2 linked regions of the Homo sapiens genome follow. The protein of the gene in region 1 purifies or fractionates together with the protein of each later gene. This does not show direct contact. Each region holds a gene or a part of one and is shown on either strand. Other genes may lie near its edges.

Region 1 (3,375 bases):
GCCCCCACACCAGACCCCAACATAGCTTCCCCACCCAGGCACCCCCTCCCGGGGCAGCAGGCGTGGGAGTCAGGGCTGCATGCTCCTCCCCTCCCACCTCACAGGCGGCCTTAGGCAAGTCATTTTCTGTCATCACAAGGTCGCCTCTGCCTAGTCAGGTCCTGGGGTCCAGAGTAAGGATGTGCGGCCCCCAGGCCCCCGCACACCTCCCTCAGCACCAAGACCGGGACCCCCCCACCCACGTGTCTCATTGTGGCTGCCTATGGACTCCCGGGCCTTGTGTGCAGGCCAGGCCCTTCCACTGATTTTTTAAAGTGAACCATTGCTGGATCTCAGATTCTGTGGCATCTAAGGCCTAGCAGGGGTGGGCACACGGGTCACCCGAGGCCCATACCAAGACTCTGTTCCTGCCCTAGGCCCAGTCTCAAAGGAAGCCACAAGGCGCGGGGGCCACTGAGGAAGGAAATGTTCATTTTCATTTGTCCAAAACCACCTTAAGTTTTAAGTATATTAATCTTGATGCTTTTTAACTATTGCTTTTTAACTTGCTGAGATTTAGAAATACTGTTATAAAAACTTTTTTAATTTCTGTATTTTTTTCTGTATTGTATCTTCATGGGACATTAGGGGTTTTCTATGGTAAGCACACCTATGGTTTTGGTAAAAACATTATCAAATATATATCCAGACGGTTCTTCCCTAGAAGAAAAACAAGTCTTTACACCTGATAAAATATTTTGCGAAGAGAGGTGTTCTTTTTCCTTACTGGTGCTGAAAGGAAGGATGGATAACGAGGAGAAAATAAAACTGTGAGGCTCAAGGCTGGTGTTCTCCACTTATTTCAGCGACAAGCTGGGGCCAGGCCTCAGGGGCACGCCTGGGGGCAGGGGAGGGAGTTCCTGCCCCCAACTGCAGGACAGGCACTGCCCAAGTCTGCCCTGAATCCGAGGACACCGGAACTCTGCTCATACAGGCGGCTCGGCTGGCCTGGCACAAGCCTCACCTTCTAAGCTGCGAGCCAGAGGCCACTGGGTTCTCTCACGTGGTGTCTGCTGTTACCTCTGAGAGCTGGGACATAACCAAAGGGGGGTTAGTGTGTGAGAGAAGCAAGGCCACGGCACCTACTGACCTTCCTGGTGAAGCGGCGCTGGGCAGGGGCTGCTCCCTGCCATACCCCACCTGCAGGAGGGGCTTTCCAATCTGAGGGAGGTGCAGGGAACAGGGCTGCCTCCCAGCTCCCCTGACAGCCACTTTCCTGGGCCTGCATCTCAGGAACTGCTCTGGGACAGCTGCCTTGTGTCCAGTCTCAGGTCCTGGCAGGCCACCAGCTGGTGCAGCACTGAGGCCAGACACCTATGGATGTGGCTTGAAGTTACCTGTCAGGTGAAAGGGCCAGAACCCAGGCCTCTCAGCCCGGGCCCAGCCAGGGTCTTCAAGCCCCAGAGACCCAGCCACAACTCAGCATCTCCACCCTCCTAGCAGAAGCCAGAAGAGCAGGGACCCGGAGATCCTCGAGAGTGAGACAGACAGGACAGGCTCCCGCCACGGGGACTGCTCGCCAAGGGCGGCGTGGACAACCCCACCGGCCAGCCCCACAAGCTCCCTGTGCTTCCACTCCCTTCCCAGCTGGGGAGAGATGTCTCTGTGTTGGAGCATTCTCAGCACCTCAGAAGCACAAGCAGGGGGGTCTTCCCAGCCCCTCCAGGGCTCCAAATTCAGTCACCCTCTCATGCTTCCTGCCACAGCTGGAGCCAGAGGCCAGCAGTGCAAAGATGCAACAAGATGCAACACGGCGCAGTCTTTCCCATCCCTGAGGCCGAGCAGCTCCCAGAGAGGAGAGGAGGGCCTTCAGCCTTCCCCGCTAGAAAGCCATGAGCCACTCAGAACCCCAGCCCTCAGGCCACTTTATTGCTCAAGAGTGGTCAGTCTGGGGTATCTGCATGCCTGAACTCCATGATGATGTCGCCTGTGTCGGGGTGAAACTCCACTGCATAGCTGACAGTCCGTGGGCCACCCAGCAGTGCTCTGGGATCTGGGGCAGGGCTGAAGAAGTAGACGGCCTGCTTGCAGTGGGGGTTCCAGCAGCAGCCCCCCTGTAGGAAGAAGAGCAGGAAGATGGTGAGGGCTCCCTGGCACCTGAGCCTCCTTCCTAGCCAGCCTCCAGCCCAGGCAGCTCGCAGCAGAGAGAAGCTGCTCAGGGGCCAGATGGCCCAGGACCACTGAGGGGTCATCATCTGGCCCGAAGAACTTGTGACAGAAACACCCAGAGCATGGGGGCAGGGAGGCCTCCCCAGGCGGCGCCTGCTCTCAGGGTCTGCACGCACACTGGGCCCGGTGCGCAGGCACTACCTCGGGGTCTGCAGGCTCCAGGAGGCCAGTGCTGAGCGTGCACTCCGGGGTCAGGTGGTACTCCATCCATAGCACCGCTGCGTGGCTCTGCCCGGGCCTGTCAAGGAGAGGGGGGCCCAGCAGAAGTAGTCACACAAGAGGCAGCGGGGGAACAGCTGCAGCTCCTGCGGCTTTCCAGAAACCTGTGGTCTTCCCCACTTCCTTCCTGCCCTGCCGGGAGTTCCTAGTGCTGCAGTTACATAAACGTTCCTCAGAAAAACCCCAGCCAGAAGAGCCGCAGCCAAGCCCCCACCTGAGCCAACCCGAGCCCTGCAGCCGGGCCACACATGGGGCAGGGCCGGTGTGGCTGCAGGGTCTGGGGGAGCTTGAGGCACAGCCTGGCACTGAAGGCCGGAAGGCCCCTCTGATGCCCCAGACAGCAACCCTGGGAGCTCAGGTGATGGCGCCCGCCCTGCCTGGCTGCCTGCCCCGAGTTGGGAGGTGCTTCCAGGAGAAGTCACTCCTCGGGCGAGGGTGGGGTGAGGGCCGGAGCAGGACAGGGCTGCCCGTCCCTGGACGCAAGCAGCACTTGCTGACCCTGACCTGCTTCAGCTCCCAGGAGGGTTCAGGAAAATGGTGCATCGGTGACCACAGGAAGTAAGCTCCCATCTTCCTGAGCTGTGATCCAACAAGGGAGCCTCAGCTGTAGAGGGGGAGCAGAGCCCTTCCTGGCTCCTCCACCAGTGGCACACACAGGACCGTGGGAACCACCACACGCGCAGGGCCACTCTGACAGGGAAGGGCAAGGTTGTGGGGAGGACGAATACCCCCTCCACGTGTCAGCGTCTCCCAGGCCAGCTGTGCTCACCACGGGGGTGAGAACTCCAAGGGCAAGCAGCAGCCCCTCCCTGCCCCCCAGCCCTCTCTGCACCCACCTTCTGAGCTCCACGGTGCCCTCGGCACACAGGGGCTGCAGGGGCACCGGCTGCTGGAAGTCAAAGGTCAGGATCTGCCAGGGCTCGGAGAGGCTGCGGCATGGGTACTCCC
Region 2 (3,809 bases), on another chromosome or scaffold:
TTAGCCCCAACCCCAAGATCAGGAGGGTACTCTATTTACTGACCCATGGCTCAGCAAGAACTGGGGGGACACAGGCATCAGAGTCCAGTGGTCTTCCCTTTTTTCTTTTTCTTTTTAAATGTTTCAAGAAGTCTATTACTTCTTGTCACCTGAAACTCACACAGACCCTGTGTGCATCTCACACCATGGGGCCTTTCCTAACTGAAGACAAGATAGGCTCCTGCCTCACTTTGAAGCCTTTTAAACCTAAATTTTGGCCGGGCGCAGTGGCTCATGCCTGTAATCCCAGCACTTTGGGAGGCCGAGACGGTCGGATCACGAGGTCAGGAGATCGAGACCATCCTGGCTAACACGGTGAAACCCCGTCTCTACTAAAAATACAAAAAATTAGCCGGCCTGCTGGAAGATGCCTGTAGTCCCAGCTACTCGGAAGGCTGAGGCAGGAGAATGGCGTGAACCTGGGAGCTTGCAGTGAGCCGAGATCGCGCCACTGCACTCCAGCCTGGGCAACAAAGCGAGACTCTGTCTCAGGAAAAAAAAACAAAAACAAAAACAAAAAAAAACCTAAGCTTTGGAAGTTTTTAAAGGTCTTAGTCATATGCTCATCATTCTCCTATCCCCAATTCCTACATAAAGTCAAGAAAAAGAGCCACAGTGTATTCTGGAAGGACACAGTTGGTCTGCTTCTTTGGAGGACTCTACCTCACCTGTGCTCCTGAGCCCAAGGCCCACTCTCTCTGAAAGAAGAGCCTGGGAGAAGGACAAGAAGAGGGTGAGGAGATGAATGGAGAGCATGATGAGTGAGGGGTACTTACTGAGCAAATTACAGGTGACCCAATGGCATGGCTGGGCAGATGCCAGGTGAAAATGCCACGATGCAAGAGGAAACCATGGTACAAAGACCAAAAAGGAGAGACTACCCCACCCCAAGAGGTATTCACAGAGGCTTAGCAGGTGGATGGGGTTTTGCTAAAGACATCTGTCCCTCCCCACAGCCCTTTTAGCTCTTGCCATAAACAAGGCCACCATGTTTAGCTGGGGGGCTAAGGAGGTTGAGTATGTACTGTCATGTACAAAATGCATCAAGGGTCAAGCCCAGGAATCTTCAGGACCCCAATCTTCACAAAGAACCCACATTCTAGGAAATCTGGATCATTGACATTCATTTCAGGACACAGAAACCTTAAAACAATAGATCAGCTAATAGAGATAAGAAGCCCGGGGTGGGACTCGCAACGCCATCTGACAGCATCCTCAGGCTGACCTTACCTTCTTTGCTGGACTACTTTCTGCAGCCTGGGATGGGGCTCTGCTCAGCTGTGGGAGTAACTCGGCCTCCGACACTTGTTCAGACTGTAGCAAGAGATCAGAGAGAGGACAGAAATGCAAAACCACAATCACCTAAATATACAATAAAGAGCACTTAGGAAGATAGTCACCAAGGGAAAACTGATTTAGGCCAAGTTGCAGCCAAGAATGCTTAAGTCTGCTGATCCTTGGGAAAAACCTCCCATAGATGCTGCTATTAACCTTCCCATCCCTCCTTCCCAGATTGTTCAACCTTAGGAAAAGGAATCATGGGAATTTCTTCTGTAATTGAACATATGTATTGCTAAAAAACTAATGCTTCGCAACAACAAACTCTAAAAGTAACAAGGCTTATCGGAAAAACAGGGTTGAAAACAAAGATTTTAACTTGAGCACCAACAAAAACAATCAACATCATTAAAAACACTGAATTTTTTAAATGTTAAATTTCTAATAAAGAAATACTCTATGAGCAGTGTGAAGAAGAAGAGGTAAGAACTATCCCCCAGGCCAACCAAAGCCCACGCACTGCTGCATCCCCAGATCCAGCACCTACATTCCACTGCAGTCGCCTCCACCATGCCCAAGAGAAAGGCTGAAGGGGACGCTAAAGGAGATAAAACCAAAGTAAGGACAAACCACAGAGAAGATCTGCAAGGTTGTCTGCCAAACCTGCTCCTCCGAAGCCCAAGCCTAAAGAGGCCCCTGCAAAGAAGGGAGAGAAGGTAAAGGGGAAAAAGGAAAAAGCCCATGCTGGCAAGGAGGGGAATAACTCTGCAGAAAATGCAGAGGCCAAAACAGAGCAGGCACAGAAAGTTGAAGGCGCTGGGGATGCCAAGGGAAGTGTGTGCATTTTTGATAACTGTGTATTTCTGGTGACTGTGCAGTTTGAAGTATTATTTTTTTATTAAGTTTTATAAAAATGCAGAATTGTTTTTATGCCTTTATTTTAAGCCATGTTGTTAGCACACGGAACACGTCATTGTTGTTTTATGGAGAAGGGGTATATGTCACTAATAGAATGTCTCTGAGGCCAGGCACCGTGGCTCATGCCTGTAATCCCAGCACTTTGGGAGGCCGAAGCAGGCGGATCACCTGAGGTCAGGAGTTTGAGACCAGCCCGACCAACATGGCGAAACCCCGTCTCTACTAAAAGTACAAAAACTAGCCAGGCGTGATGATGGGTTCCTGTAATCCCAGCTACTCAGGAGGCTGAGGCAAGAGAATCACTTGAAGCCGGGAGGCGGAGGCTGCAGTGAGCCAAGATCGTGCCACTGCACTCCAACCTGGGCAACAAGAGCAAGACTTCGTCTCAGGAAAGAAAAAAAAGAAAAAGAATGTCTATGAAGCTGGACTGATGTGGAGAAAACACCTTTCCCTTCTAGTTTTAAAGACATCTTCTTGGCTCCCAGAAAGAGGGACTGTCTGACGTTGACACACACAGTCACCTTCGCACAAAGGCCTTGTGGTGTGGAGAAACAAATTCCTCTTTATTTCCCCCTCTCCCTCTCTGCCTTCAGTATACACTTAACTCCCTCAAACCCAGATACCTGTTGGGGTCTGGCCCCCAATAACTGGTTACCAGTCAGGCTGGCAATCTGGACTTTCCAGCGAGAACCCTTGAAAGACACGTGCTCTGTTTCTAGATTGTGGATCTTCAGATAAATTCTGCCATTTTCATTTCATTTCCTGAAAGTCAGGGTCAGCTCATGAAAAGTTGTTAAACAGCACGTTGAATGTGAAATGTCAACCCTCACTCTGAACTTTCCCTCTTCAGGGTACCAAATGAAGACTTCATTGGGTTTTACCATGGCTTTCTGATTTTGGAAGTCCATTGAAGGAGGGAGTCTGAAAGTTGTATACTGTTAATGATTGTCGCTCATGTCCTGCCTGAAATACCATGACTGTTCACAAAAAGTATCTTTAATAAACCTGGACACAGTTTGGGAAAAAAAAAAAAAAAAACTCTAGTAAATATGGCCCTTCTTAAAAAAGGAAGGGGGACTGTGGTCGAAGGAGTTATCAGAAGGGTCAAGGGTGCTGAGTGGAATGGAATCAGTGACTAAACTCACCAAGATTGGCAAGGAATGTCCCCAAAGCACTTCAAGACAGAGTGGGTGCCAATCAGTCAAGTGGAAGAACACAGGGTGACTGCGCCTCATGAGCAGCTCTCTATGTCCCCCATTTCCCCCAGTCTTCTGCCTTCAGGTGTGTTAGTCTGCTTTCAGCCACTAGTAGCCAGTGATGCCAAAACATTCATGTGCTGAGAATGAACCCTACATATGAACCAATGTGACTTCTACATCATACTGACACCAGTCATCTACTGACCCACAGATAATCCTCATTACAGAAACACACATTGTAGCACAACAAACTGACTTAGTATGCCCACTTCATCCCTAACGTGGCCTTCTCTAACCTCCTTCAGAGCATGGCTTCTTCCTCTGACTCCACTGAAATGGCTAGTTCCCAAGGGCGCTAACATACCCCCATTTAAC

Evidence for each region.
Region 2: the proteins of PRMT7 (region 1) and REPS2 purify together in Homo sapiens (affinity purification with mass spectrometry; one large-scale study listed by BioGRID and IntAct). This does not show direct contact.

Annotation. Positions count from the first base shown.
Region 1 is NC_000016.10:68,355,772-68,359,146, reverse strand, and holds the end of PRMT7 (protein arginine N-methyltransferase 7), read right to left. Parts: coding exon 3,264-3,375; intron 3,118-3,263; exon of another isoform or gene 3,007-3,117; coding exon of another isoform or gene 2,937-3,006; exon of another isoform or gene 2,932-2,936; intron 2,447-2,931; coding exon 2,350-2,446; intron 2,094-2,349; coding exon 1,923-2,093; 3' UTR 1,377-1,922; coding exon of another isoform or gene 1,373-1,376; 3' UTR 1,354-1,372; coding exon of another isoform or gene 1,269-1,353; 3' UTR 563-1,268; downstream 1-562. UniProt on the Homo sapiens protein: Arginine methyltransferase that can both catalyze the formation of omega-N monomethylarginine (MMA) and symmetrical dimethylarginine (sDMA), with a preference for the formation of MMA.
Region 2 is NC_000023.11:17,131,368-17,135,176, reverse strand, and holds part of REPS2 (ralBP1-associated Eps domain-containing protein 2), read right to left. Parts: intron 2,337-3,809; exon of another isoform or gene 1,779-2,336; intron 1,354-1,778; coding exon 1,270-1,353; exon of another isoform or gene 1,269-1,269; intron 1-1,268. UniProt on the Homo sapiens protein: Involved in ligand-dependent receptor mediated endocytosis of the EGF and insulin receptors as part of the Ral signaling pathway. By controlling growth factor receptors endocytosis may regulate cell survival.